7 separate regions of the Homo sapiens genome follow, and all the other regions are reported to be linked to region 6. Evidence: microRNA targets listed by miRTarBase, many of them from high-throughput screens and not tested one by one. Region 6 holds a microRNA gene; each other region holds the end of a gene's coding sequence.

Region 1 (4,069 bases), not on the chromosome of region 6:
AAAAAAGTGAAGGAAGGAGACAGCAGATTGGAAATAACACTGGAGTGGATGGGATGTCCTCTTCCCTGAGGGGGCCGGGGTACCAGACGGGAGGCTGGGAGAGGATGAGAGGCTGCCCCATGGCTGGAGGCAGTGTCCGTGTGTGCAGTCACCATCATCAACCCCCATTCGGCCCCTTCCCCAGATGCGCTGGTGACAGGGGCTTCTTGGATGTCAAATCATGTTGTAGGAGGGTGCAGACTGCGGGCTTCTGTGGGGAGCAGTACTACTGTGTCTGTCGGCAGTGGCCATGGGACCCTCAGCCCGTCCTGTACATGGAGCAGGGTGCACAGTCACCCTCCATCCTGTGGCGAGAGGCTGGCCCGGCCCGGCCAGGCGAGGCAGAAGGTGTCGGCCAAGTGGCCCCGACCCCATCCCGCAGTCTCTCAGCTGCTTTTTATTACCTCTGTGCCCCATTTGGGAGTTTGCTTCCTCCACCTGGACACTTTGCCCGGGAGGTCATCAGAGCCCAACCCCAGGCTCTGCTCGGTTGGAGAGGGGATGACTTCACCACCACCTGACCTTCCTAGGGTCCTGGTCTCACTGTCAGCTGGGGGTCCGTTGTGTGTATTTGTACAGTTTTGCTGTATGGGGTTTGTCACCCAAAAGCTGATGCTGAGAAAGGCCTCCCTGGGGCCCCTCCCGCGGGCATCTGAGAGACCTGGTGTTCCAGTGTTTCTGGAAATGGGTCCCAGTGCCGCCGGCTGTGAAGCTCTCAGATCAATCACGGGAAGGGCCTGGCGGTGGTGGCCACCTGGAACCACCCTGTCCTGTCTGTTTACATTTCACTATCAGGTTTTCTCTGGGCATTACGATTTGTTCCCCTACAACAGTGACCTGTGCATTCTGCTGTGGCCTGCTGTGTCTGCAGGTGGCTCTCAGCGAGGTACGGGGAGGGCGTCACCCTGCAGAACGGCAGAGTGACGCGTCCTCTCGCTGCTGAGCACCAGCTGTTTACCTGCCCTGCATCACTTCCTCGGATACTTTACTCAATAAGCATTTCCCCTGGAGTGTCCGTGCCCTGGTGTTTTTTATCGATACGTTGATTAAAACGCGTGGTTCCCCGTGTGCCTGAAGCAGACATTGCTGTGAAATCTTTTATTTTTGTTTTATGACACAGCATCAATTTCATGAATACTTTGAAAGGGCCATTAGAAAAAATAAGAGCCAATTTGGGTCATTTGAGAAACATTTTCAGCACAATTACAGTGGGGGCACGGGCCGTTCGGCTCCAGCTGGGTTTTCCCAGATGCAACAATCGCGGTTCTGGCTTCTCCACTGGTGGGGATGGGGATCGCGCCTTCGGAGCTCTCAGGGCGCCTGTCTGTCGGGGGCTGGGTGCGTCCACAGCCCCGGGGGATGGCGCGTGGCGTAGCCCAGGAACGGCATGTGGGTGGGTCTCTGACCTGCTTGTGCAGGGACTTGAGGGACCTCATCCCGATGGCCGAGGCAGGGGCTCCCCACGGGATAAAAGGATCCGGCCTGGCCTTGGGGTCCAAGAGGAGGGCCAAGGGAGTGGACCTGGCCCCTGTCCCCTCTCCTCCTCGAAACACTGGACACCCTGAAGCGAGACTATGGCTGCTGAGGATCCTGTGTGATGTGGCCGCGGGGCGTCCCCTCTGGCCTCAGGGGAAGAAGGACTGGGCGGCTCGGCCCAGGTCACCCTCTAGGAAGCAGAGGAGGTGCAGGTGCCAGTTCAGGGCAGAAAGAAAGAGCCACTGAGGCCATTGTCCTGAAGGCGGTGACCCCCAGGCACTCCTGCTGCCCCCCAGGAAGCCCTGGGCTGCGCTGGACACCGGGCCGAGTCTCCGTCTTCTGGACCGAGGCTCTTCTGGGCTTTCAGGCTCAGCTCGTCGGTCCATTCAGCAAGTTCAGGGGCAGACTGAGCCCTGCTCTGGCCATGGCTCAGCCGGAAACAAGAGCTGCCATGTTCGTAGCACCTGAGTACCCCCGCCGGGGAGGTCTCTGTCATCTCATGTCCCCGCTGGGCAGGTGCCCCACAGCAGGGGAGCCCTGGGCTCTCTCTGTCCCAAGCTCCCAGCTGCATCCAACCTCAGCTCACAGTTGTGGATCACCCTGACCTTCCAGAGTGCCCCTCCCAAGGGGCAGACCCAGCATCCTGGAGTCCCCACCCCGAGCTGTGCTGAAGGACAGCTGGGGCGGTAGGGCCAGGACCAGACCAGGCCTCTGACAAAGTCTCATCGAAATGAAACCAATGTGCCCGGGCCACCTTAAGGGGCCCTGACCAGGAAAGTTAGGCCTGAAGCTGCCAATGCCAGATCCTCAGGGTGTTACCTGTGTCCTTACGTGGCTAGGCCTGACCCCAAGTGCCACAACCCCCAACTTGGGGAGGGCAGGGCCACCTGGTGGGGACGGGCCAGCCAGAGCCCTTGGTCTCAGCTGTGGCAGCCACATCCCTGGCCCGGCTTGGCCCTGAGGGCCTTTGGGACATCTCTGGGCAGAGGCATGAGGGAGGGGAGAGTCCAGTAGCCAAGTCCGGCAGAGCCAGTGGGGCAGGAACGCCCAGCAGAAGGAAGCTGGGCTTGGGGCAGCAGAGACGTGCCAAGCCACCAGGCCTGGCCATGAGGATGAAGCACCTGGGCGGGGGAAGGGACGTACCTGCCACCCCAAGGCTCCACCAGGCAGAGAGACCCAACGGGCTGCCAACTCAAACCAGAACCCAAGCACGTCATAATGTCCTACAGACAGCATGGTGCCAATTATATGATAACCCCACATCAGTGAGAATAAGTAACGGCGGTGGCAGGGGCTGGGTGGGGGGCACACTCGCTCCCCACACAGGCCAGGGCTGAGCAGGAGGCCTCAGAGCTGCTCTTGGGGAGCAACCCAGGGCCTTGGGGCTTCTCTCCCATGCCCAGAAGGGCTGCACCAGGAACACCCAGCCCTGTCTCCTGCTCCAGTTCCACAGCACCCCTCACACCCTGCCCCAGACCCTCCACAACCAGGCACAGCCTGGAGTCAACACATCCAGGAGCCCCAACTTGGGAGGAGGGAGGAAGAGACTCCAGCCCCTCCCCACCATTCAACTTTTAAGGATGAATTGGAGGTCATCTGATTAGAGTTTCTGGCAGCTCCAATCATCTCTGATTGGCCCCACTCCCCGAGCAGCCTTAGGCTCTGCCGGGCTTGTCCCGGGCCTCAGTTTACCCCAAATGAGGATGCTGAGCCCAGGCCCCATGTAGCCCTATAACAAAGGTTGGAGAGGGGGTCCTTGCTGGGGCTTTGGCCTTGGAAAACCTGCAGGTAAACCTTTTCCTGGGATCTCCCCTTGCCCAGAAGTCAGGGTGAAGAGACGTTAGTTCCAAGGCTAAGGAGGCCTTTCAACTCGGGCTGAGACTGCCTGGCTCAATGAAAAATCAGGATCCAACTGGGCCCTACCTAGAGGTTTGGGCCTCACGCCGCTGTCCAGGGCCACAGCCGCAACTAGGCCACTCGCTGGTCCCCAGCGGGGCAGGAAAAATTGCTCCAGGGAAGTGGCTGAATGTTCGGGGGAAAATGGAACCGCTGAGGCCGTGTCCTTGTGGGGTGTCACCGCCCATCTGGGGCTCGTGGCTTGGAGGGACTGGGGCTGGGAGGAGCAGGCCAGGCAGCTGCGGCCACCGCCACCCCCACCCAGGACTGGGCGCTAGGTGCCCTCTCGGAAGCTGTGGATCTGCGTGGAGTACCTCTGCAGGTGGCCCTGGGGCTGGGCCTCCGTGGCCCCCAACGCACCCCCAGCCACCTGCTGCTGCTGCTGGTAGTGCTGGTAGAGCTTGGGGCCCGGCCCCTCCAGGCCTGGGAGGCGGCTGCTGGACATGGTCAGGATGGTGGCCGTCAGCGATTTGATGTAGTTCTTGGCCAGCGTGAGCGTCTCGATCTTGGAGAGCTTCTTGTCCGCGCGCACGTGGGGGATGACTTCACGCAGGGCCTGGAAGGCGTTATTTAGCTTGTGCATCCGCTGCCGCTCCCTCTCGTTGCTCTCCAGCCGCCGCTGGATGCTGCTGTCACGACGGCCACCGGGCCCGGAGGG
Region 2 (4,075 bases), not on the chromosome of region 6:
TTAACTTAAAGGGTAGAGCCCTACACTGAGATCTCTTCCCTTTTCTGGTGTTAAAATGTCTTTTGTTAAATGATAGTGATAGTAGATAGTAGTTGTTTTATTAATGATGTCCTATCAATCTCCTCCCCTTTTTTTACATTTTTTCTGTTCAATTAAATACAGAAGTCTAAAGAACTACTGCCTAAAAGTTATCATAACATTGAATTTAGCCTTTGATTGACTACTTCCCAAATAATGTGGAGGCTTCATTGATTTATTAGTATGCACTTTGAATAGTAATTACTTTGTGGATGTTCAGAAAAAGCCATGCAGCTACCTATGTAACAGCTCAAACTCAAAGCCTACGGGCATTTAAAGTTGCCTATGAATAGATCTATAATTCAATGTAACAATATGTAACAAGAGATACTATAACTCTCAAAATGGACTAAAATTGTAAATCTATAGATATAAATAAATGTTCAGATTCTCACATCAAAGGAATCTTTGACATGAGATCCAGGAATCTGTTGTAATCACTTGGTTCACATGCCAGAAAGTAAAATGACATTCAATGTGAAGGCTTAGAAAATAGAAGGTCAGAGGAGAAATTAGGCGTAGAGATGTTGGATGTATGTGTGGCTTATCTGCTAGAGGAGTAGGAGTTAAAATGGGGCAAGATATGGAGATAAGTGTTGGGAGTCATTTTTATAAAGGTGCACAAGCTCTATAAATTAATGAAGAGGTAATGAGTTCTATGTATAAGGTATTACTAAAAGATAATTCATTCAGTTATTTACTAACTTACTGTTTTATGGACTTTTTAGGTATAAAAAAAGAACAAAACAAAATCCCTACCCTCAAAAAGCTTACAATTCACACAGAAGGACAAACCTGTGAACAATTAAGTAGAATACAGTATGAGGCTATTAGCACTATGGGTGCCCTAAAGAGGGAAAGACTCATTCTTCATAATACTGGTGACAGGGAAGGTCATGGAATAGAGAATTACAGATTGCTTTACCAAAGGTTAGGATTGAATTTTGAGAAATTCTCACAACTGGGGGCAAGAGGAAGAAGAGGAACTGGTGAAGGAGTTAGAAAAGCAGTTTTAAGAGAGTAGAGGAATCATAATTGACATAAAAGTACCAACACAAGGAGTTTAAAAATAGCATCAGCAAATATATCAAAAGCTATAAAAAGTTTGAGGATAAGGATTGAAAGATTAATAAAGAGGGAAAATAGGTTTATTTTATACTAAGGGGTCTCCAGAAATGCCTTGGTCTAATTTAGAAATCTTTGAAGTAAGAATCCAGGAATCCCTCCCTAATCTGGAACACACTCCTGGAAAATAATGTTGTATTCAAAATCCAAGCTCAGAAAATGTAGCGTTAGAGTAGAAAGGACAAAAATGGCACCTGGACTTTTCCTAAATTATTGCAGTCCTTAAGGACACCGGTCTTCGCACAATATACTGTATTAAGAAAATGGGCTAGGCATAGTGGTTCACAGCTGTAATCCCAGGACTTTGGGAGGCCAAGTCAGGAGGAATGCTAGAGGCCAGGAACTCAAAGACCAGCCTGGGAAACGTAGCAAGACTCTATCTCTGCAAATTTTTATTTGTTTTTATTATTATTTTTTGAGATGGAGTCTCACTCTGTCACCCAGGCTGGAATGCAGTGGTGCGATCTCGGCTCACTGCAACCTCCACCTCCCGGGCTCAGGTGATTCTCCTGCCTCAGCCTCCCAAGTCACTGGGATTACAGGCACGTGCCACCACATACAGCTAAATTTTTGTATTTTTAGTAGAGACAGGGTTTCACCATGTTGGCCAGGCTTGTCTCAAACCGCTGACCTCAGGTGATCCGCCTGCCTTGGCCTCCCAAAGTTCTTGGATTACAGGTGTGAGCCAGCACCCAGCCTGCAAATGTTTATTTTTTCAATTACCCAAGCATGGTGGGAGGATCACTTGAGTGCAGGAGTTACAGGTTACAGTGAGCTATGATCATGATAACTCCACTGCATTCCAGCCTGGGCAGGAGAGGCAGACCCTGTCAAGAAGGTTGCGGGGGTGGAGAGAGAGAGAGAGATAAGAGAGGAAGAAGAAGGAGTTGGAGAGGGAAGAGGAGGAGGAGAGAGAAGAGGAGGGGGAGGGGAGGGGAGAGGAAGGGAGGGGAGGGGAGAGGAAGGGAGGGGAGGGGAGAGGAAGGGAGAGGAAGGGAGGGGAAGGGAGGGGAAGGGAGGGGAAGGGAGAGGAAGGGAGAGGAAGGAGAAGGGGAAGGGAAGGGAAAAGGGAGAAGGGAGAAGGAGGGTAAAAAAAAAAAAGGAGCAAACACAGGTCTTCTTTGTACTGCTCCATAAACACCCACTGGGTCGGCCAAAAAGGTGGCTGAAAGTTATTGCAGTGTTCTTTTGCTTTAAAAAATTGAAACTGAATTGCTCATACATTAAAAGGATAAAAAACTAAAAACTTTGGGAGACATTTAAAACAGGGTTATCTCAAAACCATGGTTAAATAAATGTCAACTGACAAAGTATTACTGAATTACCCATTCCTTTTCCTTCTCCCCATAAGGGAAAACTAGCTTTCAGAACAGGACAAAGAAGAGAAAGCCATAAGAACGAACAATAAGTGCTTTTTAAAAACCATCTTCTTTTCTATAAAACTTTTCCATAAAGTCACAACGTAAGAGAAGGTTGAGGCGCCTGATTAAATAAATTAGAAAAAAGGCTTTCCAAACCACCAATATGAAACCAACTATCGTACTTAAAACCTAGGAAATATAAAACAGAATGGGAGGGGAAATGGTCTTCAGTCCAGTTACAATATCTGTATTGCCAGCCTTACAGAATAGGAGAACTCTTCTAAGTATAAAACTATACAGATTTGTGTTTATTAATTTACAGATAGAAGGAGGTCAAAGATAAAGAGGGGTTTTACTCAGAGGTATACCCCACCTCACAGGTGAAATTTAATTTTGGACATAAAAAGTGATAGTTGTACCCAGAGGCTCCTAATCCAAGCTGGTCTTAATATTTCCTTGCTCCAAGTGTCATTCCATAAGATTTCCTTTTTAGGCAGGGAGAACAAATTTTTTCTCTGGAAATAGCCAAATATGTCCTTTTATATGGAATGCCTCAATTACACAGAAAATTATTAGATTCTCTGAGTAGTTCTTAAAGCCTCCACATGGTCTTCACGAATGATTTATACCCAAGTGCTTTCCTGAAGGAGCACGTGAAACTCACATGGGGCTGTGCTTGGAGGAGCAGAGGCGAGGCCAGAGTCCGGACATAAGCATGCTGAACAGGTCAAACAAAACAAGGGCGATGTAATGTTGTACTTAAATACTTAAAGAAACCCACATCTGTTTTCTCGATTTCAAATGGCATGAATAGGTTTGCCTTTCAGATACTAAAAGAAAATGTGGCCTTTTACAGAACGTATGTTCAGTTGGAGGTATCATCTTGACTTCTCTTCTGGTCATGGCTTGTTACAGATTTGGCACTTTTCACTTGACCTGAAAGGAAACAGATTTTAAAATTACATTTAATTAGTTTGCAATATGAAACAAAATGAAGCCAGTTTTTAAGACAATAAGAATGGAATAAATTAGATTGTCCCAGGCTGAACCAGCTACTAATTCAACCCTAGTGTTGTTGGTATGTCATTCAAATAGTCTCTCCTGTTCACTATATTTAAAGCTGTGAGGTCACATTTCCCATATAATCAGTATTATTGTCCCTAGTTCTGCCATTGATGAGAGTAACTTTGAATAAACCGCTAAACCTCTGTTGTCTTCACTTTCTTCACTGCAAAGTCAGGGTTCATTTCAGAGGTTCCATCAAGATCTAACATTCTGTGATATGAAGGTGCTTAGAGAACATGTGATATAGGGGGTCGGGGGAGAGAGGCAAATCTTCACAGGTGAGAAGGGAAGGAGGGGGGATTGTTGGGCCAGGTTAATGGTACTGGTGGAGAGGTGGGAATAACCGTATATCCAATAGTCCCAGCTACTTAGGAGGCTGAGGCAGGAGGACTGTTTGAACCCAGGAATTCAAGTTCAGCCTGGGTAACATAGCAAGACCCTGTCTC
Region 3 (4,075 bases), not on the chromosome of region 6:
TGAAAGGACCCACTCTAGGAAAAAACCCTATGAATGTACGCAGTGTGGGAAAGCATTATCCTCTCTTACAAGTTTTCAAACACACATAAGAATGCACTCTGGAGAAAGACCTTATGAATGTAAGATATGTGGGAAAGGCTTTTGTTCTGCCAATTCATTTCAAAGACATGAAAAAACTCACAGTGGAGAGAAACCCTATAAATGCAAGCAATGTGGTAAAGCCTTCATTCATTCCAGTTCCCTTCGTTATCATGAAAGGATTCACACTGGAGAGAAACCCTATGAGTGTAAGCAATGTGGGAAGGCCTTCAGATCTTCCTCACACCTTCAATTGCATGGTAGGACTCACACTGGAGAGAAGCCCTATGAATGTCAGGAATGTGGGAAAGCCTTCAGATCTATGAAGAACCTTCAAAGTCATGAAAGGACACAAACACACGTAAGAATACACTCTGGAGAAAGACCTTATAAATGTAAGCTATGTGGGAAAGGCTTTTATTGTCCCAAATCATTGCAAAGACATGAAAAAACTCACACTGGAGAGAAACTCTATGAATGCAAGCAATGTGGTGAAGCCTTCAGTAGTTCCAGTTCCTTTCGATACCATGAAAGGACTCACACTGGAGAGAAACCCTATAAATGCAAGCAATGTGGGAAAGCCTTCAGAGCTGCCTCAGTCCTTCGAATGCATGGTAGGACTCACCCTGAAGATAAACCCTATGAGTGTAAGCAATGAGGGAAAGCCTTCAGATCTGCCTCACACCTTTGAATGCATGGTAGGACACACAATCAAGAGAAACCATGAATGTAAAGAATGTGGGAAACCCTTCAGGTCTGCCCAGAACCTTCGAATTCAGTAAAGGACACAAGCACACATAAGAATGCATTCTGGATAGCTGAACAAAAGGCAGCAGAAACTTCTGCAGACTTAAATGTCCCTGTCTGACAGCTTTGAAGAGAGTAGCAGTCCTCCCAGCATGGAGTTTGAGATCTAAGAATGGACAGTCTGCCTCCTCAAGTGGGTCCCTGATCTCCAAGTAGCCTAACTGGGAGGCACTTCCCAGTAGGGGCCAACTGACACCTCATACGGCCGTGTGCCCCTCTGTGACGAAGCTTCCAGAGGAAGGATCAGGCAACAACATTTGCCGTTCTGCAATATTTGCTGTTCTGCAGCCCCTGCTGGTGATACCCAGGCAAACAGGGTCTGGAGTGGACCTCAAGCAAAATCCAACAGACCTCAGCTGAGGGTCCTGACTGTTAGAAGGAAAACTAACAAACAGAAAGGACAACCACACCAAAACCCATCTGTACATCACCATCATCAAAGACCAAAAGTAGATAAAACCACAAAGATGGGGAGAAACCAGAGCAGAAAAGCTGAAAATTCTAAACATCAGAGCGCCTCTTCTCCTCCAAAGGAACGCAGCTCCTCGCCAGCAATGGAACAAAGCTGGACTTTGACTTTGACGAGCTGAGAGAAGAAGGCTTCAGATGATCGGTAATAACAAACTTCTCCAAGCTAAAGGAGGATGTTCGAACCCATCACAAAGAAGCTAAAAACCTTGAAAAAAGATTAGACAAAATGGCTAACTAGAATAAACAGTGTAGAGAAGACCTTAAATGACCCGATGGAGCTGAAAACCATGGCACGAGAACTATGTGATGCATGCACAAGCTTCAGTAGCTGATTCAATCAAGTGGAAGAAAAGGTATCAGTAATTGAAGATCAAATGGATGAAATGAAGTGAGAAGAGAAGTTTAGAGAAAAAAGAGTAAAAAGAAATGAAAAAGCCTCCAAGAAATATGGGACTATGTGAAAAGACCAAATCTATGTCTGATTGGTGTACCTGAAAGTGACAGGGATGGAACCAAGTTGGGAAACACTCTTCAGGATATTATTCAGGAGAACTTCCCCAACCTAGCAAGGCAGACCAACATTCAAATTCAGGAAATACAGAGAACGCCACAAAGATACTCCTCGAGAGGAGCAACTCCAAGACACATAATTGTCAGATTCACCAAAGTTGAAATGAAGGAAAAAATGTTAAGGGCAGCCAGAGAGAAAGGTCGGGTTACCCACAAAGGGAAGCCCGTCAGACTAACAGCGGATCTCTTGGCAGAAACTCTACAAGCCAGAAAAGAGTGGGGGCCAATATTCAACATTCTTAAAGGAAAGAATTTTCAACCCAGAATTTCATATCCAGCCATACTAAGCTTCATAAGTGAAGGAGAAATAAAATCCTTTACAGATTCAAATGCTGAGAGATTTTGTCACCACCAGGCCTGCTGTAAAAGATCTCCTGAAGGAAGCACTAAACATGGAAAGGAACAACCGGTACCAGCCACTGCAAAAACATGCCAAATTGTAAAGACCATTGAGGCTAGGAAGAAACTGTATCAACTAACGAGCAAAATAACCAGTTAACATCATAATGACTGGATCAAATTCACACATAACAATATTAACCTTCAATGTAAATGGGCTAAATGCTCCAATTAAAAGACACAGACTGGCAAATTGGATAAAGAATCAAGACCCATCAGTGTGCTGTATTCAGGAGACCCATCTCACGTGCAGAGACATACATAGGCTCAAAATAAAGGGATGGAGGAAGATCTACCAAGCAAATGGAAAACAAACAAAAAAAGCAGGGGTTGCAATCCTAGTCTCTGATAAAACAGACTTTAAACCAACAAAGATCAAAAGAGACAAGGCCATTACATAAAGGTAAAGGGATCAATTCAACAAGAAGAGCTAACTATCCTAAATATTTATGCACCCAATACAGGAGCACTGAGATGCATAAAGCAAGTCCTTAGAGACCTACAAAGAGACTTAGACTCCCACACAATAATAATGGGAGACTTTAACATCCCACTGTCAACATTAGACAGATCAATGAGACAGAAAGTTAACAAGGATATACAGGAATTGAACTCAGCTCTGCACCAAGAGGACCTAATAGACATCTACAGAACTCTCCACCCCAAATCAACAGAATATACATTCTTCTCAGCACCACATCACACTTATTCCAAAATTGACCACATAGTTGGAAGTAAAGCACTCCTCAGCAAATGTAGAAGAATAGAAATTATAACAAACTGTCTCTCGGACCACAGAGCAATCAAACTAGAACTCAGGATTAAGAAACTCACTCTAAACCACTCAAATACATGGAAACTGAACAACCTGCTCCTGAATGACTACTGGGTACATAACAAATGAAGGCAGAAATAAAGATGTTCTTTGAAACCAATGAGAACAAAGACACAACATACCAGAATCTCTGGGACACATTTAAAGCAGTTTGTAGAGGGAAATTTATAGCACTAAATGCCCACAGGAGAAAGCAGGAAAGATGTAAAATTGACACCCTAACATCACAATTAAAAGAACTAGAGAGGCAAGAGCAAACACATTCAAAAGCTAGCAGAAGGCAAGAAATAACTAAGATCAGAGCAGAACTGAAGGAGACAGAGACAGAAAAAACCCTTCAAAAAATCAGTGAATCCAGGAGCTGTTTTTTTGAAAAGATCAACAAAATTGATAGACCGCCAGCAAGACTAATAAAGAAGAAAAGAGAGAAGAATCAAATAGATGCAATAAAAAATGATAAAGGGGATATCACCACCGATCCCACAGAAATACAAACTACCATCAGAGAGTACTATAAATACCTCTATGGAAATAAACTAGAAAATCTAGAAGAAATGGATAAATTCCTGGACACATACACCCTCCCAAGACTAAACCAGGAAGAAGTCGAATCCCTGAATAGACCAATAACAGGCTCTGAAATTGAGGCAATAATTAATAGACTACCAACCAAAAAAAGTCAAGGACCAGATGGATTCACAGCTGAATTCTACCAGAGGTACAAAGAGGAGCTAGTACCATTCCTTCTTAAACTATTCCAATCAATAGAAAAAGAGGGAATCCTCCCTAACTCATTTTATGAGGCCAGCAACATCCTGATACCAAAGCCTGGCAGAGACACAACAAAAAGAATTTTAGACCAATATACCTGATGAACATCGATGCAAAAATCCTCAATAAAATACTGGCAAACCA
Region 4 (4,075 bases), not on the chromosome of region 6:
AGCGGTTCGTTACCCCATTGAAAGAAGCTCTGGAAGGTAACGAGCCTCTTGTCTTCTAAACCACATAGAAGATGGTCATCCTGTGTGACCTGTTCACCAGGCCCTGAGCCTTCTCAGCGCGGGTCCCTTTAAGTCCAGTAAGCCAGCACTTGATGTGACTCGACCCAGTTCGGTGGGCACCACCTCAGATCTGTTTTGTAATGCTGAGCAAGTTATTTTTCCTTCTCTGCCTCCGTTTTTGTTTTTGTCTTGCTTTTCTTGTTTTTGTTTTTTTTTTTTTTTTTTTGAGACGGAGTCTTGCTCTGTCACCCAAGCTGGAGTGCAGTGATGGGATCTCAGCTCACCGCAGTCTCCTCCTCCTGGGTTCAAGCAATTCTCCTGCCTCAGCCTCCCGAGTAGCTGGGACTACAGGCGCACGCCACCACGTGCGGCTCATTTTTTATTTTTGTAGAGACGGGGTTTCACCATATTGGCCAGGCTGGTCTTGAACTCCTGACCTCAGGTGATCCGCCCGTCTCAGCCTCCCAAAGTGCTGGGATTACAGGCGTGAGCCACCGCGCCCATCTGCCTCCGTTTTTCCAATTGTACAATGTAATTAGCTCCTGCAGTCCGTCTGGCTCACTTTCAGCTCTGTCTCCTAACCCCTTGTTCCGTCCTTACAGCATATAGGCGGGAGCAGAAAGGCAAGAAGGAGGCCTCAGAGCAAAAGAAGAAGGACAAAGACAAAAAAACAGACTCGGAAGAGCAAGACAAGAGCAGGGATGAGGACAATGATGAAGACGAAGAAAGGCTGGAAGAAGAAGAACAGAATGAAGAGGAAGAAGTAGACAACTGAAAAGGGCGGGAGACTGTGGCACCTTGGAAGGTACCACTTGAAATGAGACGTGCTACGTGTTTCTGTGAAGCTTTTCCATGCTGGGCAGAGTAGTCTCAGGCAAAAGTGCCTGAAAAGATCAGAATAAAAACTGACTAGAAATACCGTCAAAACCAGCACTTACCAAACTCAGAGCATCTGAGTAGCAGAATCCTGTTTTGCTTCATCAATCTGAAGGTTATGGCCTTTTGACAAGAGGGATTCTGAACGACTAAATTAGTCAGTTTGCTCGCTTTTGTTTACTTAAATGTATGGTTAGATGGTTTTTGATCTGCAGTCTTCCCTAGTCCCCCAAATAAGTAATAATAACTTCCATGCTGCCTGCTGTGTTCCAGATCACAGAGGCAGCCAAGGCTCAGGAAAAACTGGGGCTTTGCTTATGGTCAGCCTATGTTTGATTGCACAGTCTTTGACAATAGTAGCTTACTAAGACTGCTCAGAATGAGTAAGCTTTAGGAAACTACTAAAATGCTGTGGGAGAATAACAAAATCCGTTCTCTCTCTTCACTTGACAGAAGCATTAACTGAATTTTGTTTTTCATAGACCCACTTGGCCCAAAACCTTTCTATATTGCCTGTAGATGATCGGCCTGCTGGTGTGGTAGTAATCTGATCACAGATATTCTTAAATCAGCAGTGTGGAATGGTATTAGTCAAACATGGTGCCAGTGTCTTTTACAAAAACAGATGGCATAGTGTCAGATGTACCTTACTCTCTGCTACTGTACAGCTTTAGGATTTGTCATCACCTCCCGGAAGGTGTAAAACCCCAGGCTTCCTCTTCTTGTAGTCCATCTCCCAGACTTGTGACTATGGCTTTTCATTCTTCAATTCATGACGAGTGCCAAACTTGATTTTCTCTAGGCACAGCTTTCTCCCTCTGTGCCTCCTGCTTCCTTTCTCTCTCCTGCCTCTCCTCTGCTCCCCATCCCACTTTCTCATCTGCCTCCTTTTCTCACTTCTGTCAGTCTGTAAGCTTTGATAACCTGCTTAATACTCCAAAGTGTGAGTTCCTCTGATCTCTTGATTCCTTAGTTCTAATCTCACGTTTTGTTTTTAAGAGATGGAGTCTCTCACTCTGTGGCCCAGGCTGGAGTGCAGTGGCATGATCATAGCTCATTGCATCCTTGAAATCCTGGGCTCAGGTGATCCTCCCGCCTGAGCCTCCTGAGTATCTGGGACTACAGATGCGTGCCACCAAGCCTGGCTAATTTTGTCTCATGTCTTCTAAAAATTATTTTGTGAAGCCCCTTCACAAAAAACCTTAAGGGAAATCTGATGGTGCTCAGGAATCTAACTCTCCCTAAACCATCCTCTTTAACTGCTTCTAAAATATCTCTGTTGGCCTTTCTTAGCCTTTTTCTGTTTCCATTCAGTGCTCCAAGCGCTTTTTGTTTCTAAGTTGAGTGCTTGGGGTTTGACAGGTAGTGACGTGTAGTTTGACACTGTTAACTTGTTAAATACAGTGAAAAGTTTGTGAGTGAAGAATGCTGAGAAGATTGTAATGCTTTGTACAAATAAAAGTCTTGTTAAAAAATGATGCCTCCTGTTTCATGCTGCTTGTTCACAGTGTGTTTTTGGAGAGAGCCCCTGATGATACTCTCCATGCAGTTTTTGGCGTGTGGTCCTGGCCAGACCTTTGTAAACATGAGATACTGCATCGCCTTGGATGACCAGCAGGTGCTGCTCATTCACAGGCAAGGGCTCTGAACTACTGCAAGAGCATTTGTTTTGTTTTGTTTTGTTTTTTTTGAGACAGAGTCTCAATCTGTCGCCCAGGCTGGAGTGCAGTGGCATGATCTCGGCTCACTGCAACCTCCGCCTCCCAGGTTCAAGCAATTCTCCTGCCTCAGCCTCCCAGGTAGCTGGGATTACAGGCACCCACCACCATGCCCAGCTAATTTTTATATTTTTAGTGGAGACAGGGTTTCACCATGTTGGCTAGGCTAGTCTGAAACTCCTGACCTCAGGTGATCCACCCACCTCAGCCTCCCAAAGTGCTGGGATTACAGGCGTGAGCCAACACACCTGCTGAAAGAGCTTTTTTTTTTTGTAGACGGAGCCTCACTCTGTCTCCCAGGCTGGAGTGCAGTGGCATGATCACGGCTCACTGCAAGCTCTGCCTCCAGGGTTCACGCCATTCTCCTGCCTCAGCCTCCCTAGTAGCTGGGACTACAGGCACTCGCCACCATGCCTGGCTAATTTTGTTTTTGTATTTTTAGTAGAGATGGGGTTTCACTGTGTTAGCCAGGATGGTTTCGATCTCCTGACCTCATGATTCGCCTGCCTCGGCCTCCGAAAGTGCTGGGATTACAGGGGTGAGCCACCATGCCTGGCCGGTGCAAGAGCTTTTCATGGATGTGCTGGGCACCCTTATACATACTAGATTCTCAGCAGCTTCATTTATTGAGCCCCCTACTGTGTCTGGCACTAACTGCTTTCAAGTATTAACCCTTTTTTATTTTTATTTATTTATTTTTTGAGACAGAGTCTCACTCTGTCACCAGGCTGGAGTGCAGTGGCACAATCTCGGCTCTCTACAACCTCCACCTCCCTGGTTCAAGTGATTCTCCTGCCTCAGCCTCCCAAGTAGCTGGGACTACAGCCGCGCACGCCACCACACCCAGCTAATTTTTGTATTTTTAGTGGAGATGGGGTTTCACTATGTTGACCAGGATGGTCTCAATCTCTTGATCTCGTGATACACCCGCCTCAGGCTCCCAAAGTGCTGGGATTACAGGTGTGAGCCACCACGCCCGGCCTTAATTTTTTTTTTTTTTAATTTGAGACAGGGTCTGTGTTACCCAGGCCAGTCTCCAACTCCTGGGCTCGAGCAATCCTCCTGCCTTGGCCTCCCAAAATACTGGGATTACAGGCATAAGCCACCACACCCAGCCCTAAGTATTAACTCTTAAACCCTATGAAGCAGCACTGCTGTTACCTTTATTATCTCTTTACCACAATGCTATATCACCTATCTAATCTACATAGCTTTTTCTTTTTTATTTTGAGACAGAGCCTCGCTCTGTCACCCAGGCTGGAGTACAGTGGCGTGATCTTGTCTCACTGCAGCCTCTGCCTCCCCGGTTCAAGTAATTCTCCTGCCTCAGCCTCCCTAGTAGCTGGGATTACAGGTACCGGCCACCACGTCCAGCTAATTTTATTTTTAGTAGAGATGGGGTTTCACCACATCGGCCGGGC
Region 5 (4,075 bases), not on the chromosome of region 6:
ATGCAGCCAGGGGTAACTCATGAAGGGCTAGACTGGTTTCCCAATGCTCTGCACAGGAATCCTTGAGTAAATCCCAAGGATCCCCTCCCTGGGCCATTGCCCCACTGCCTCCATCTCTTTGGCTAATTTTAGACTTAGGGACTAGAGTGGTGGGATTAGAGTGGTTGGTGGGCTCAACGTGTAGGGACAATGTGTTGTAATAACTTCACTCAGAAGAAAGCTAATGCCTCACACTGGTTCTGTTGAACACTTATGGAGGGAAAAAAACTTGCTGTGTTTGTGGACAACTATGTCACAAACAGTTAGTAGCCCTAAACTTAGTGTGGACATTATATTTCTTGAGCTGAGGCTCCACTACTTGATTATGGCTAAAACACTTTTAACTCTTTTCTTCCCCACCCCGAGACAGAGTCTTGCTCTGTCACCCTAGCTGGAGTGCAGTGGCACGATCTTGGCTCACTGCAACCTCCGCCTCCCGAGTTCAAGCACTTCTCCTGCCTCAGCCTCCCATGTAGCTGGGATTACAGGCGCCCGCCACCACACCTGGCTAACTTTTTATATTTTTAGTAGAGACGGGGTTTCACCATCTTGGCCAGGCTGGTCTTGAACTCCTGATCTCATGATCCACCCACCTTGGCCTCCCAAAGTGCTGGGATTACAGGCATAAGCCACCGTGCCCAGTCAAGACACTTTAACTCTTTGAGTCTCAGTCTCCTCATCACCAAATAAGGATGTTAACTAGTTCCAGGGTTTCTGTGAGAATCAAATGAGATACTGGATATGAAAGCCCTTTGTCAACTGTATTTGGGTTTGTTTTGTTGTTTTCTGAGACACGGTCTCACTCTGTCCCCCAGGCTGGAGTGCAGTGGCGCCATCACGGCTCACTGCAGCCTCAAACTCCCAGACTCAAGGGATCCTCCCACCTCAGCCTCCCAAGTAGCTGGGACTACAGGTGTACACCACCATGCCTAGCTAATTTTTTGTAGAGATGGGCTTTTGCCATGTTGCCCAGGTTGGTCTTACACTCCTGGGTTCAAAGTGATCTGCCCGCTTTGACCTCCCCAAGGTGCTGGGATTAGAGGCATGAGCCACAGCACCCAGCACCTTTGTCAACTGTAAAAATATTTACATGAAAGGCTTTACTGATACTAAACATGAACCAGACTTCCAGACAAAGTTATTATTAGTCTGTTCTTAAACATGACCTACCTGCCTCTTTCATAGAGACCAGATGTCAGGGAGGGGACCTGAGGATCAAGTAGCAGGCTGCAGACAGACTAGGAGTAACAAGGCAGAAGCCACACCAAGAGCAAAGCCTCAGTTCCCAACCCTGGTGAAACTGCTCCCCTCCAAGACCAGACCATCCTGACCCTTGCTCTATCAGCTACCAGTCCTTTCTTGAGCTGGAGGCTGCATTATCAATGCACTGCCACTGAGCTCCTCAGTGTTCTGGGAGACCCTAATTCCACAGTATGTGGCAGGGAGGAAGCAGGGAATGAGGCAAGGGCAGGCAAGGGGAAGGCAGCCTGGCTACTATTCCTAGTCTCTGTCTGACTTGCATCTGTCCTTGTTGAGCTAGGGAGGAGGCTTGCTCTTCAGGAGAGAAGCCAAACTACTGAGCAAGACAAGGAGAGATCTTAAGATGCTATGCACTCAGAACTTCGGCAGCCAGGACGGGACTGAAACTCTGACAGACACAATGGGCCAATGGGGCAGGACATAGCTCTCATGGCTGCCCTCATAGCCATGGAAAGCAGGGCAGCAGTACCAGGACCGCCCACTCCCAGGGAGCTGTGAACCAAGTCCTTGTCTTAGTTTCTTTGGGTTCCCAGTAGAGGATGGGACTCCAGCACCTTTCTGCCTGTCTGGGTTGCTGAGTGGCACCACCTGCATGTTCAAGTACCAGAGAAAGCAAGAAAGCTAATTCAGCAGCAGCTCCCGGGGAGAGCCCACTTGGCACAGTCTGTAGAGTCCAGGAAGGAAAACAGGCCACCCTTCCCCCACAAGCATCAATGCCTATGCTATGTCTTTTGCTTCCTGTGAGACTGTCAGTTAGGGCCCAGTTCAGTGTAGGGCTGAGGCAGCCTGAATGTGGTTATTTGTGCAAGCTCCTCTTGCCTCCCCTCCCCACAACTGTTTCCATTCTCACCAAGCAGCCACGTCCGGGTCAGACACCCAGGACAGCAGCTGGGGCTTTCCAAGGGACTTTTTGAGAAGCTAGTGAAAGTTGGGTGTTGGCTGCACAGCCTGGGCACTTGCTGAAACGCACTTCTTCCATCCAGGACGTAAGCTCTAGCCTGGCAGGGTTGCTTTCAGGTTGAAATTGAACAGAAATCACCACCCACGGAGCTTTCTGTTTGCTGGGCTGGGGAAATCCTTGAGAAACTCAGTTTGGAGTTGGGGTTATCTGACCATTCCCTCAGAGCTTGAAGGCACCAGAGAAAATGGTTTTGGTTTGAAGACCATAGTGGACATGAGCAGCCCGGCCAGTCCCAGTTTCCCTCCCATAGGCCTATGTGAGGACAAGGAAGGGGAGTAGACAAACTAATCAGAGTCAGGTCGCATCTCTCCTCCTTCCCACACTCTCCAGGCCACAGGTAACAAGCAAAATCAACTCAAGAGCAACACCAGGTGGCTGAGACACAAAGCCCTAGCACAGGCAGCTCTGCCCTAGCACAGCACAGCTCACCCTGCAGTTGTGGTTCTCAGCATTTCCCCTACTATTTTGGCTGATTGTGCACATATTCTATGTATTGAAAAATGGCCCAAAAAGGAGAGCAAAAGTATTTCACCTTTATAATACTTATATAATTTTCACATAGCTTCGTTTCTACAATCACAACAATCCTGAGGTAAACAGGCAGGGTGCAATCATTCTCTTTTTAGAGGGAGAACAAGGAACTTAGGGAAATCAAAATGGGGATACGAACAGGATTTCTGTGGAAATTTAAATGAGAATTTGTGGTAAATTTTTTTATCCTAAAACAACTCACCTTGGCCGAAAAATGGGATGTTACCCAAGGTCCCCTACTAGGCCGGAGGAGAAAAGGACCTACCTCCTACAGGGGCACAAACAAGGGAGACTAGGACTCAATGGTCGCCCAAGGCCCAAGGGTCTCCAGTGAGTGCTTGAGACTGGCCTAAGGTATAGGAAGAGCCGTGAAGAGAAGAAAATAGACAAGCAGGGGAGGGAAGAATTATTAAACATGGTCAAGGAGCACTCTACAAAGCCTCAGGATTTCTTCAAGGGATACTGCTGTGCCAGGTCTCGAGGGCAGAAGGATACAAGTGTGAGACACCAGGGCCACCAAGTTGATGGGGTTACTGAGCCTCTGGATCAGCACCCTCCGATAGGAAGCAAGGAAGCACACTACAAAGGCTGCAATCCCAGAGGCTGAGACAGTCAAGAGGGAGTAGAAGGGCCTCTGCTGCTCTGGGAAGGTTCTTATAGGGCAAATAAGCTATTACTGTGCCTAAGAGAATGGAAGAGGGAGGCAAGGCAGGTGTCATGGCCTTCAGAACTTTCTCGAGGTTCATATTTATTGACATTTGACCTAGAGTCCTTGGCATGGGGAAGGCACAGACCTGGGCCACGGGTAGGAAAATCAGCATCCTACTCTCTCCTCAATTCCATCTGTTAATCCACCAACCCAAATCCCTCCCACCCCACCTGTAGTCCAAAGAAGATAAAATGATAAAATGATGTGCTGCTCTCTCAACAGTCAGCTGAGTCTGAATTGGAGGGTAGGAAGTATTTGAAGTTCTGTTCATTTAGTTCCAGAACAAGAAATAAGCAGAGGCAGGAGGTGGAGAGCAAAGATGCTGGCAGCCTTGCATCTTGCTAGGTCTTTATAGCTGTGTCTCTGGATTTGTAGGCCACTCCTCGACTTTTCAGCTCCCGCACGATTCCTGAAGCAGGAAAAGAAACAGTTCTGTGAGGTAAGATTCAGAAGGGTAAGATAGGCCACTCAGCTGCCACCTTGAGGGGGGTACTATAAGCAAACTGGAGTTCCTAGACTACTTATCAATCGTCTGCTTGGCCAGGCACGGTGGCTCATGCCTGCAATCTCAGCAC
Region 6 (4,075 bases):
CCTGGAACTATCCTCACCTCTTCTCTGAGAGGAGGTTTTCTCTGATCACCCGGCATAAAGCAGCCTTTCCTTATCCCCTGTGCAGTGCTTCATATTTCATCTAAGTGTTTATCAACCTTACAGCAATCAACTCTGACTTGGTTCTTTGCTGCCTGTTTTCAACACTGCTTGGTTTAAGTAGGCGTTTGACATTTGTTGAGTTAGGCCACTTCATTAAAGTTAGTCTTAGTAGAGGGGAAACTGAGGGCTCAAACCAGGGCAGGGATAGTACAAGATTGAAATATGTATGTGTGTTGTTTGGAAGAGGTGGGTGAGAGAAAGACTCCTGGTGGGTGTAAAGGAATTTGGAAACCAACTAAGGGAGGTTAGGAGAAGGGCCATGACACAGGTATATTGGGGCATTTTTTAGCATACGGGATATGGGAGTCTGTAGTGATGTCTAGGGGACAAGAATAGGGGGTAAGGGAAGACCCAGCAATAGACTTGGGCCCAGAACTGTGGAGCAAGTCCATTTTGTGGGATGGGGCCAAGGAGCAAAGGCTGCCAACATGCAAGAGAACCCTGGGGGTTCCTGAGCTTGGGGTGGGGTAGACATGGTGGCCAGCAGTATTGGGTGCCCTAGAAAGTCAGGAGGGTGCAAGGACTGCGAAGATTCTAGAAGGTGAGGGGGATTGGGAGGGTCAAGGCAGGACAAATGGGCATGACAAGGAGCATGTGCCTGGTGCCTTTGGAGAGGGAGAGGCTGAAGATGGGGGAAACAGTGGAGATTGCTATTGGTGCAAGACCCCAGAAGCAGCAAGAGCTGTCACAGGGAGTGGAGATCCTGGGAGTTGGGGGTCAGGGACTGGCTGATGTAGAGAACTTGAAGTAGGTTTTGGTCCCAGAGCTGACATCAAATGTCTTTGTAGCTATGGCAACCCACTTAGCTCCTGTTTCCCACCTCCCTGCAGAATCGCATGAAACCTGCACAGCCAATTTCACATGTTTATTATTGGAATCCATTGAACTCATGAATATGAAAGTGTTAATGCTCTGGGAAGATATTTCTATGGACCATAAACTTGCTGCAGTTTATTTGTGCTTCAGAATTTTTTTTGAGACAGAATTTCCCTCTTGTTGCCCAGGCCGGAGCGCAATGGCATGACCTTGGCTCACTGCAACCTCTTTCTCCTGGGTTCAAGCAATTCTCCTGCCTCAGTCTCCTGAGTAGCTGGGATTACAGGCATGCACCACCATGCCTGGCTAATTTTGTATTTCTAGTAGAGACAGGGTTTCTCCGTGCTGGTCAGGCTGGTCTCGAACTCCCAACCTTAGGTGATCCACCTGCCTTGGCCTCCCAAAGTGCCTGGTAGAAATTTTTCTAATTGTTTATTTTCTTTGAGAAGCACTTAACATCCAACTGGTTCTCCAAAGTACTTCTTTTTTGAGTCTTGATCAGGGAATAACACAATTGTGGTGAGTTTTATGTGCATGTGTGTTTTTAACCCTCCAGGTCTGGCTCTAGATTGTTCACTGGGAAGCCGAATGATATTTTCAGATTCAAATATATTTGTCTAATAATGAAAGGGTCGAAGTGTTACAAATGCTATCCTTTCTAAATAGTCAACATTTGGAACTAGTGAGATATATTTTTACCTTTATTATTTTATGGTTGTCTTTGAAGCTTGTTTATAAGGAACTTTTATGTAACTTTATTCTTGAGATGCAGCCATTATATTTTTGTTCTTTTCCTTTACCACATAAGGAATTATTTCCTTCAAATGAACTTAAAATATCTCTCATGAATACTCCTATTTTTAACTGAATGTTTCTCTTTTTTAAAAAACTTTTATTCTTCAAAGTTCTGATGGATCGTCTTTTTTTAACTCTTTATAATGGAAATTTTCAAACAAGTGCAGATACAGAGAATGGTATCATGAAGCTTCAGGTAGCCACCAGCGGCTTCAGGGTGATGATTCTTTATTTTCATCTCTACCCCACTCACGACTAGGGGCCCATGGGCACCATCTAGAGAGGGAGAGAGAAGAAGGTCACAATGGACCACAGAGTGGGCAGCCATCAATTTAGAGATAGCGGAGGCTGGGGGAGAAGATTGGACGCCCCCAGGGAGAGTGACAGGCAGACCGGCGAGATTGGAAGCCCGTGGCACTGGGATTGCTGTGGTCCCTCGTCCCTCCACATATGTGATCACCTATGGTATATGAAGGGAACGTGCAGAGACTCGTTTAAAACTGAGGTGACTCAAATTGCTTGGTAAAAGAGGCCCAGTTTTTAAGCAGTTCAATAGTGCCCACATATTGAGCAAACATGTTCTCTTTTTACTGTGGCGACAAAAACTTTTCTTGGCGGGTGGCCGGAGAAAGCTATGTTACTATTGCACTTCTTTAAATACGGAAGCAAGTCTTGGTCGAAGGCCTGAATGATGCCTCCCCTTTTATAGAACATTTGGATAAAAGGCCAAAGTGTTACTTTTTTTTGAGGATACGTATTTTAAAATGTATATGGTTTATTTTGATACTTAAAAAGCAACAACTTGAAAACAACAGTCCTGAAACACTTGTCAGTAAGGTGTTAGGATTTAACCAGCCTTTGAGAAAGGGAGAAGAGGCGGGACAGGAATCCGAGATGGAGCAGGGAGCTGGTTTGCTTCTTTGCCGCCTTGCTCTGAAGTTGCCACCCAGGGTCACACATCACTAGAAGTGTTTTCCTCTGGGAGGAGGATGATGTCTGACTGTGGAGAAGAGGCAGCATCCCAGAGGGAGCCCAATTTAACTGGATGCTCAGTGTGAGAGGAGGAGCGCTGGCATTTAGTGGCTGTGTGCCGTGGGCGGGGCCTGCCAGCCCTTGGCTGTCATTTGCCACCTGAGGGACAGGCTGCTTAGTTCCAGCCTCCTGGCTCACCTGGAACCATTTCTCCTGGGAAGCATGGTAGCCAGGAGAGTGGATTCCAGGTGGTGAGGGCTTGGTACTCCTTTTGGGGGATCCTGAGTGCCAGGAGAAGAGGATGAAATCGATGGACTGGGGGAATCAAGGCTGTCCTCATGGAAGAGGAGACAGGATTTGAACCTGGGCCTTCAAGGATGGGGGTAAGGATGGAGAGAAGCAAGATAAGGGATGTTTTAAGCCAGGAGAAACCAGGCTGAGAAGAGGTATGGGTGGGGAGGATAGTAGTTGTTGTTAAGGGGTGCTGGTGTCTAGAGGCCTCCGGGATGGGGTTTTAGGGGTGGCCTGCCTGGATCAAGGATCAGCTTGGACGTGCTCAGCGAGGATGGGGATGCCCATTTCCCTCCATGCAGCTCTGGGCTGGGGGCGGCCCATCTGGGTTCTCAGTTCCTGCCCTCTCCCTCTACTTTTTCTGGGAACATCAGACAACTTTCTGATCCTGTGAACCAGTTTACTTCTCTGTGAAATGAAGACACCTCAGTCACCACTTGACTGTGTATCCAATTGCGCCCATGGCATATGGACAAGCCCTCACTCAGCTAATGGGTGGGCACTAGGTGTGCAGTGGTTAATTTGTTTTATTATAAGGAGTGTCCTTGATACCTTTATCTCATTTCTCTATTTTTTTTCCCTTCCCCAAAGTGTTAGACCATGCACTTTAATCCAACATTATTTTTATATGTTTTTTATTCTTGTAGAGACAGGATCTCTCTCTGTTGCCCAGGCTGGCCTCGAGTGATCCTCTCACTTCCACCTCCCAAAGCACTGGGATTACAGGTGTAAGCCACTGTGCCTGGCCTAGTACAACATTATTTAAAAATCTCTACACATGTCTACTCTGCAGAACTTTCTGCACTCTTTGTGCCTGCTTTTGGAAGAGCGAGTCAGGCAGTTCTCTCCAAGCTGCTACCCTACAAGACTCCAAATGGATAAGCCAAGGAGTCCTGCAGTCTGAGGTTGTAGTACCTCACTTTCTGGTGTCCCCTTCGCTGTAACCAAGAGCATATTCTCTTTTAAGAAAATGTGTCACTGGAAACCTTCATCCTAACTACCAAGAAATTGAGACTTCCCAAAGCAATTTATTAAATTACTTAAAATACAATGTCATTTGTATAATTGTGAACACTTATTG
Region 7 (4,000 bases), not on the chromosome of region 6:
TCAAACGGTCTGCCTATTTTCGAGGCTCTGCCTTCCAGAAAAGTCATGCAGGCAGCTGACCCTCCCCACAGCCAGGGTGGTGAGGCAGGTGGGCTGGGGGTGGCATAAGCCTGGGCTGTAGTGCACTCTTATTCTCCCCGCTTCTCTCTCTCTCTCTAGGGCTGAACCCATCAGAACCACTGTCTTCCAGTACCCCGTGGGCTGGCCACCAGTTCAGGAGCTGCCTCCATCCCTGCGGGCACCCCCACCTGGGGGGTGGCCTCTGCAGCCCAGAGTCCAGTGGGGCTGAGCCCCTTGCCCCCGACTGACCCCCACGTGGTCACTTTTCTCATCAGTCACAATAGGAAGCCAAGCCCGGTTCCTGCTACGCCCCATGGAGGCTCCGAGACCATCTGCCCAGCCTCACTGAGGCTCAGGACACGGCCACACCAAGTGCAGCCCTCGTCCTGGGTCTGCACCGGGCAGCTCTCCCCTCACTCTCCTCCACCTGCCCCCCTGCTTCTTAAGAAGATGGGGGAGAAAACTTCCAAATGTTTATAAAGAAAGTCTGTCACCACAGTGGTCTGGCTGTGTTTCCCTACACTGGGTGCTCTGAGCTCTGTTCTCCAGCCCCTAGCAGAGGTCGGGCAAGGAGGGAATCAGATGAGATTTTCCCCAGGTGACCCACGCTCACTCCCTTCTCCCTTGGGACCAGCAGAGGTTCAGCACGGCCAGGCAGAGGGTGTGCCAGGGTGGCTGTGCCCGTTGCCTGGTAAGAAGTGGCTCTAGGCCCAAGGAGCCCAAGGGCTCCATCTGCCATCCCCGCCCTGGAAGAATCCACAGCCCCCATGTCTGCCCATGCTGAGCTGCTGCCCAAGTATTTGGGATGGCACAGCTGGGGCATGGGAGCGGGGTCTCCAACCTTGAGGGCGTAGAGAAGTGGGAGGACAGGAGGGCAGGCCCTGGGCTGAGAGAGTGGCCTGGCGCAGCCTCTTGGCACTGACAGTGTGGGGCTGTGCCAGTTTCTTGGCCCAGGAGGTAGTACAGGGGCCCTCCCAAAGTTCAGCCCTGGAGGAGCCCCCTGGCTGGAGGCTGCTCAGAGCCTTCAGGCCCCAGCTCTGCCTCCTTCCTCAGCTGGACTACAGTTCTAGGCTCTAGGCTGGGGTGGTGGACAATGTGGCCTTGGTAGCTGGGCCTCTGGTGGGAGGGCCAGAAGGTGGGGGGCTGCAGGGCCACCTCAGATGCCCATCCTCCACGAGCTTCTGCCTTTCCTGAAAATCCCTGTGGAAGGAAGAACTGAGGCCAAGTCTCGGGGCCCTGAGCCTCGGGTTCCTCACCTGTGAAATGGGCTGGCCCAGCAGGTACATGGAGAAAAGGGGGTCTGGGTTGGGGTCCAACGAGGGTCAGAGGAAGGGGCCCAAGGAGAAGACCAGGGGCCTCCTCAGGCTATGCCAGGCAGCAAGGCCCAGGACACCCTGGCTTCCCACCCTCCCCCAGGAGAAGGCTTTCTGTCCCTGCCTGTGCCCTGTGCCCTGGGCAGACCTCAGGGACCAGGGCTGGGTTGGCTGTGTGGCCCCAGATAGGCTGCTGTCTCAAGGCACAGGGTGCCCGCTCCTGCCCAAGGGACCACAGCAGCGACTGGGTCCTGGGGGTTCCTGTGCAAATCCCTCCTTAATTTCCCAGGAGCCCCTGGATGGTAGGAAGAGTGAGTGCTCCTTACAGGCCAGGGTGGGGACAGGGTGGGGCTGGGGACCATCCTCAGAGCCACCACCCGGCCCTCCACAGCCAGGCCACAGCTCCAGGTGAGGACCGTGGGTGGGTGGGGAGGGCTCGCTGGATACCCAGGCCCTGAAGTACACGCAGATGGCGGCCCAGGGAGCCGGCCAAGGGAGAGGTCTGCAGGCGGCGGTGGTGTGGGGCGGGCCACGGGCACCGCATGCGGTGGATGGGGCATCCAGGTGGCGTCTACTTCATGCCACTGCGCAGCACCTGGTTGGCCGCAATGAGCATGACACTGATGATGAAGGCGATGGCGAAGGCGCAGATGAGACTCTTGCGCACGCAAGTCTGGCGGATCTGCTGGTTGGAGCAGGCTGTGGCCGCCCGCCGGGAGCACCGGGGAGACAGAAGGGGACATCAAAGCGATGGAGTCAGGAGCCGCCTGCCCTTCGGCACATGGGCTCATCCCATGGGGTGCCCCAATGGGACAGAGGCTTAGGACAGGCAAGGAGGCCCCCAGCCCCCCTCTGCAGACTCTCCCCACCCCGTGCGTCCCCCTGGCCAAGTCACTGGGCCCACCCGTGGGGTTCCAGGGCCAGCCACTCACTCTCCACATCCACGGGACACTCCTCGGCTGTGCCCAGGTGGCTCTCCTCCTCCGTCATGATGATGTTCTCTATGTCCTTCATGGACAGGTGCTCGCAGAAGGTGTCGTAGAGCAGCCGCTTCAGCTCATCCACCGTCAGCTTCTGCATGTCGCACTTGCGGAGGGGGACAACACGGTGCTCTGAGAGCCACCGCAGCCCCCACCCAGCACCCCACGGCCATACAGACCCGGTGACAGGCCTCTAGATTCTGGGGGGCTGGAAAACACTTGCTCCATTCCCCCAGAGAGTCCTTGACCAACACCGGCCTCCCCAGGGAGCCCATGGCCCTCTGAGAGGTGAAATGTCCAGTGGACACAAGCCTGAAGTGGTCATCCCCCCTTTACAGTGTGGGCCCAGCCATTCACTGGCTCCAGAACAGAACTCCACAGTGTGCACAGCCCTGGGTCCCAACTAGCCAGGGGATACCTTCCAGAAGACAGTATCAAAGTCGGTGCCATGGAACTTCTCTGGGATCCCTGAGGTGGAGAGTTTGGGTCCCAGAAGGGTCACAAACTCCTCAAAGTCCACTTGACCATCACCTGGTGGAGGCACAGGTCCAATCAATCAGTGGGTAGGGCCCAGGCCTGCAGCCCAGGGCCCAGAGGTCCTGGGATGGAGTCTTGATACACCTTGGGCCTACCGGGTGGCCTTAGGCAGGTGCCCGCCTTCTCTGAGCCTTGAGTCAGTGTCAGGGGCATCTACCAAGTGCCAGGCTCTGGGCTGACGCTGAAGCCACCCAGTGTGATGAGGCCTTACAAGGGGAGGTGGAGGTAGACAGCAGGTGGGCCGTGACCCTCCTATTTCACCCAGAACCCTCCGTTGCTCCCAGCACCCTGCGGCCATCCTGGGGTGGGCCATCCTCCACCATATAGACAGGAACTGAAGCTCAGAGTGGGGCAACCTGCCAAGGCTGTCACCTGGCCTCTGGATGGAGAAGAGGAGAAGAAGGGCCCGGGTGGGATAAAGAGGGGGCTTGGCATCACTATTCCTTATGAACTTTTCCTTAATAAAATGCCAGGTGGCAAACACAACTCAAGTAGTCATTTTATCTCAGGTGGTGGGAACTGGAGTATTTATTGCATCCTTTTACTTCTCTGTACTTTAAAACTTCTCAACACAGAGTGAAAGGAGCCATCTCTGAGCCCTGCATGTGGCTGGGACTGTCACTACCTCTCTGGCCTCAATTCTCCAGGCTGAGAAATGGGGCCAGACCGGGCTGCAACCTGCCACGGACTTTGAGGGTGGGAGTCAGGGGAGCGAGAGACCCAATTTGGATGCAGCCTCAGCAGCTCAGGCCCCAGCCCCTGCCCCACCCCCAGGGCCCAGATGCCAGGTGGGGAAACCGAGGCGGGGGGGTGCTCACCATCCATGTCCAGCCGCTGGATGATGACCTCCAGCTCCACCTCGTTGGGCATGTAACCCAGTGAGCGCATGGCTGTGCCCAGCTCCTGCTTGGAGATGAAGCCATTGCCGTCACGGTCAAACACCTTGAAGGCCTCTCGGATCTCTGAGGAGAGAATGGAGTAGGCTGGGACTTCACCCCGGTCCCCAACAGACCCCCTTTCCAGACCCCCAGGATCACCGACCCTGCAGCCTGAGCATGGCCTTGAGAGCCCAACCCAGAGCCTGCAGATCTGGTGAGAGCATGGCCCGAG

What was found. Region 6 holds the annotated microRNA hsa-miR-5192 (AGGAGAGUGGAUUCCAGGUGGU, at 2,935-2,956, shown strand). A microRNA usually pairs through its seed, bases 2 to 8, with sites in the 3' UTR of a target mRNA and lowers its output. Matches are read on the target gene's strand: a 7mer-m8 pairs with bases 2 to 8, a 7mer-A1 pairs with bases 2 to 7 and ends in A, and an 8mer does both.
Region 1: the mRNA of BHLHA15 is a reported target of hsa-miR-5192. Seed matches in the 3' UTR shown: 7mer-A1 at 3,258-3,264 and 7mer-m8 at 2,516-2,522.
Region 2: miRTarBase lists ANKRD45 as a target of hsa-miR-5192. Seed matches in the 3' UTR shown: 7mer-A1 at 2,092-2,098 and 7mer-A1 at 2,052-2,058.
Region 3: the mRNA of ZNF69 is a reported target of hsa-miR-5192. The part of its 3' UTR that is shown has no 7-base or 8-base seed match.
Region 4: miRTarBase lists POLE3 as a target of hsa-miR-5192. Seed matches in the 3' UTR shown: 7mer-m8 at 2,171-2,177.
Region 5: the mRNA of SUPT4H1 is a reported target of hsa-miR-5192. Seed matches in the 3' UTR shown: 7mer-A1 at 3,808-3,814.
Region 7: miRTarBase lists ZMAT5 as a target of hsa-miR-5192. Seed matches in the 3' UTR shown: 7mer-m8 at 476-482.

Annotation. Positions count from the first base shown.
Region 1 is chr7:98,212,496-98,216,564 of GRCh38, reverse strand. It overlaps BHLHA15 (basic helix-loop-helix family member a15), which reads right to left. Exons shown (of 2, transcript NM_177455.4): 2 at 1,108-4,069. The coding sequence ends at 3,686. TECPR1 (tectonin beta-propeller repeat containing 1) reads left to right here. Exons shown (of 26, transcript NM_015395.3): 26 at 1-1,941. Among named protein-coding and RNA genes, the nearest start is that of BHLHA15, 3.1 kb to the right of the region's middle.
Region 2 is chr1:173,606,716-173,610,790 of GRCh38, forward strand. It overlaps ANKRD45 (ankyrin repeat domain 45), which reads right to left. Exons shown (of 6, transcript NM_198493.3): 6 at 1,621-3,500. The coding sequence ends at 3,430. Among named protein-coding and RNA genes, the nearest start is that of SLC9C2, 5.7 kb to the left of the region's middle.
Region 3 is chr19:11,905,363-11,909,437 of GRCh38, forward strand. ZNF69 (zinc finger protein 69) reads left to right here. Exons shown (of 4, transcript NM_001364730.1): 4 at 1-1,334. The coding sequence ends at 736. Among named protein-coding and RNA genes, the nearest start is that of ZNF700, 18 kb to the right of the region's middle.
Region 4 is chr9:113,405,571-113,409,645 of GRCh38, reverse strand. It overlaps POLE3 (DNA polymerase epsilon 3, accessory subunit), which reads left to right. Exons shown (of 5, transcript NM_017443.5): 4 at 1-36; 5 at 663-2,411. The coding sequence ends at 835. Among named protein-coding and RNA genes, the nearest start is that of POLE3, 3.1 kb to the left of the region's middle. RefSeq lists enhancers at 1-71, 1-173.
Region 5 is chr17:58,342,405-58,346,479 of GRCh38, forward strand. SUPT4H1 (SPT4 homolog, DSIF elongation factor subunit) reads right to left here. Exons shown (of 5, transcript NM_003168.3): 5 at 2,774-3,909. The coding sequence ends at 3,842. All of the region lies in intron 3 of TSPOAP1-AS1 (TSPOAP1, SUPT4H1 and RNF43 antisense RNA 1), which reads left to right. Among named protein-coding and RNA genes, the nearest start is that of SUPT4H1, 7.8 kb to the right of the region's middle. RefSeq lists an enhancer at 1,814-2,343.
Region 6 is chr2:62,202,948-62,207,022 of GRCh38, forward strand. It overlaps MIR5192 (microRNA 5192), which reads left to right and starts at 2,879; the gene lies at 2,879-2,970. All of the region lies in intron 1 of B3GNT2 (UDP-GlcNAc:betaGal beta-1,3-N-acetylglucosaminyltransferase 2), which reads left to right. RefSeq lists an enhancer at 1-169.
Region 7 is chr22:29,727,514-29,731,513 of GRCh38, reverse strand. It overlaps ZMAT5 (zinc finger matrin-type 5), which reads left to right. Exons shown (of 6, transcript NM_001003692.2): 6 at 160-558. The coding sequence ends at 289. CABP7 (calcium binding protein 7) reads right to left here. Exons shown (of 5, transcript NM_182527.3): 2 at 3,709-3,852; 3 at 2,772-2,884; 4 at 2,306-2,459; 5 at 1-2,072. The coding sequence ends at 1,945. Among named protein-coding and RNA genes, the nearest start is that of CABP7, 9.5 kb to the right of the region's middle.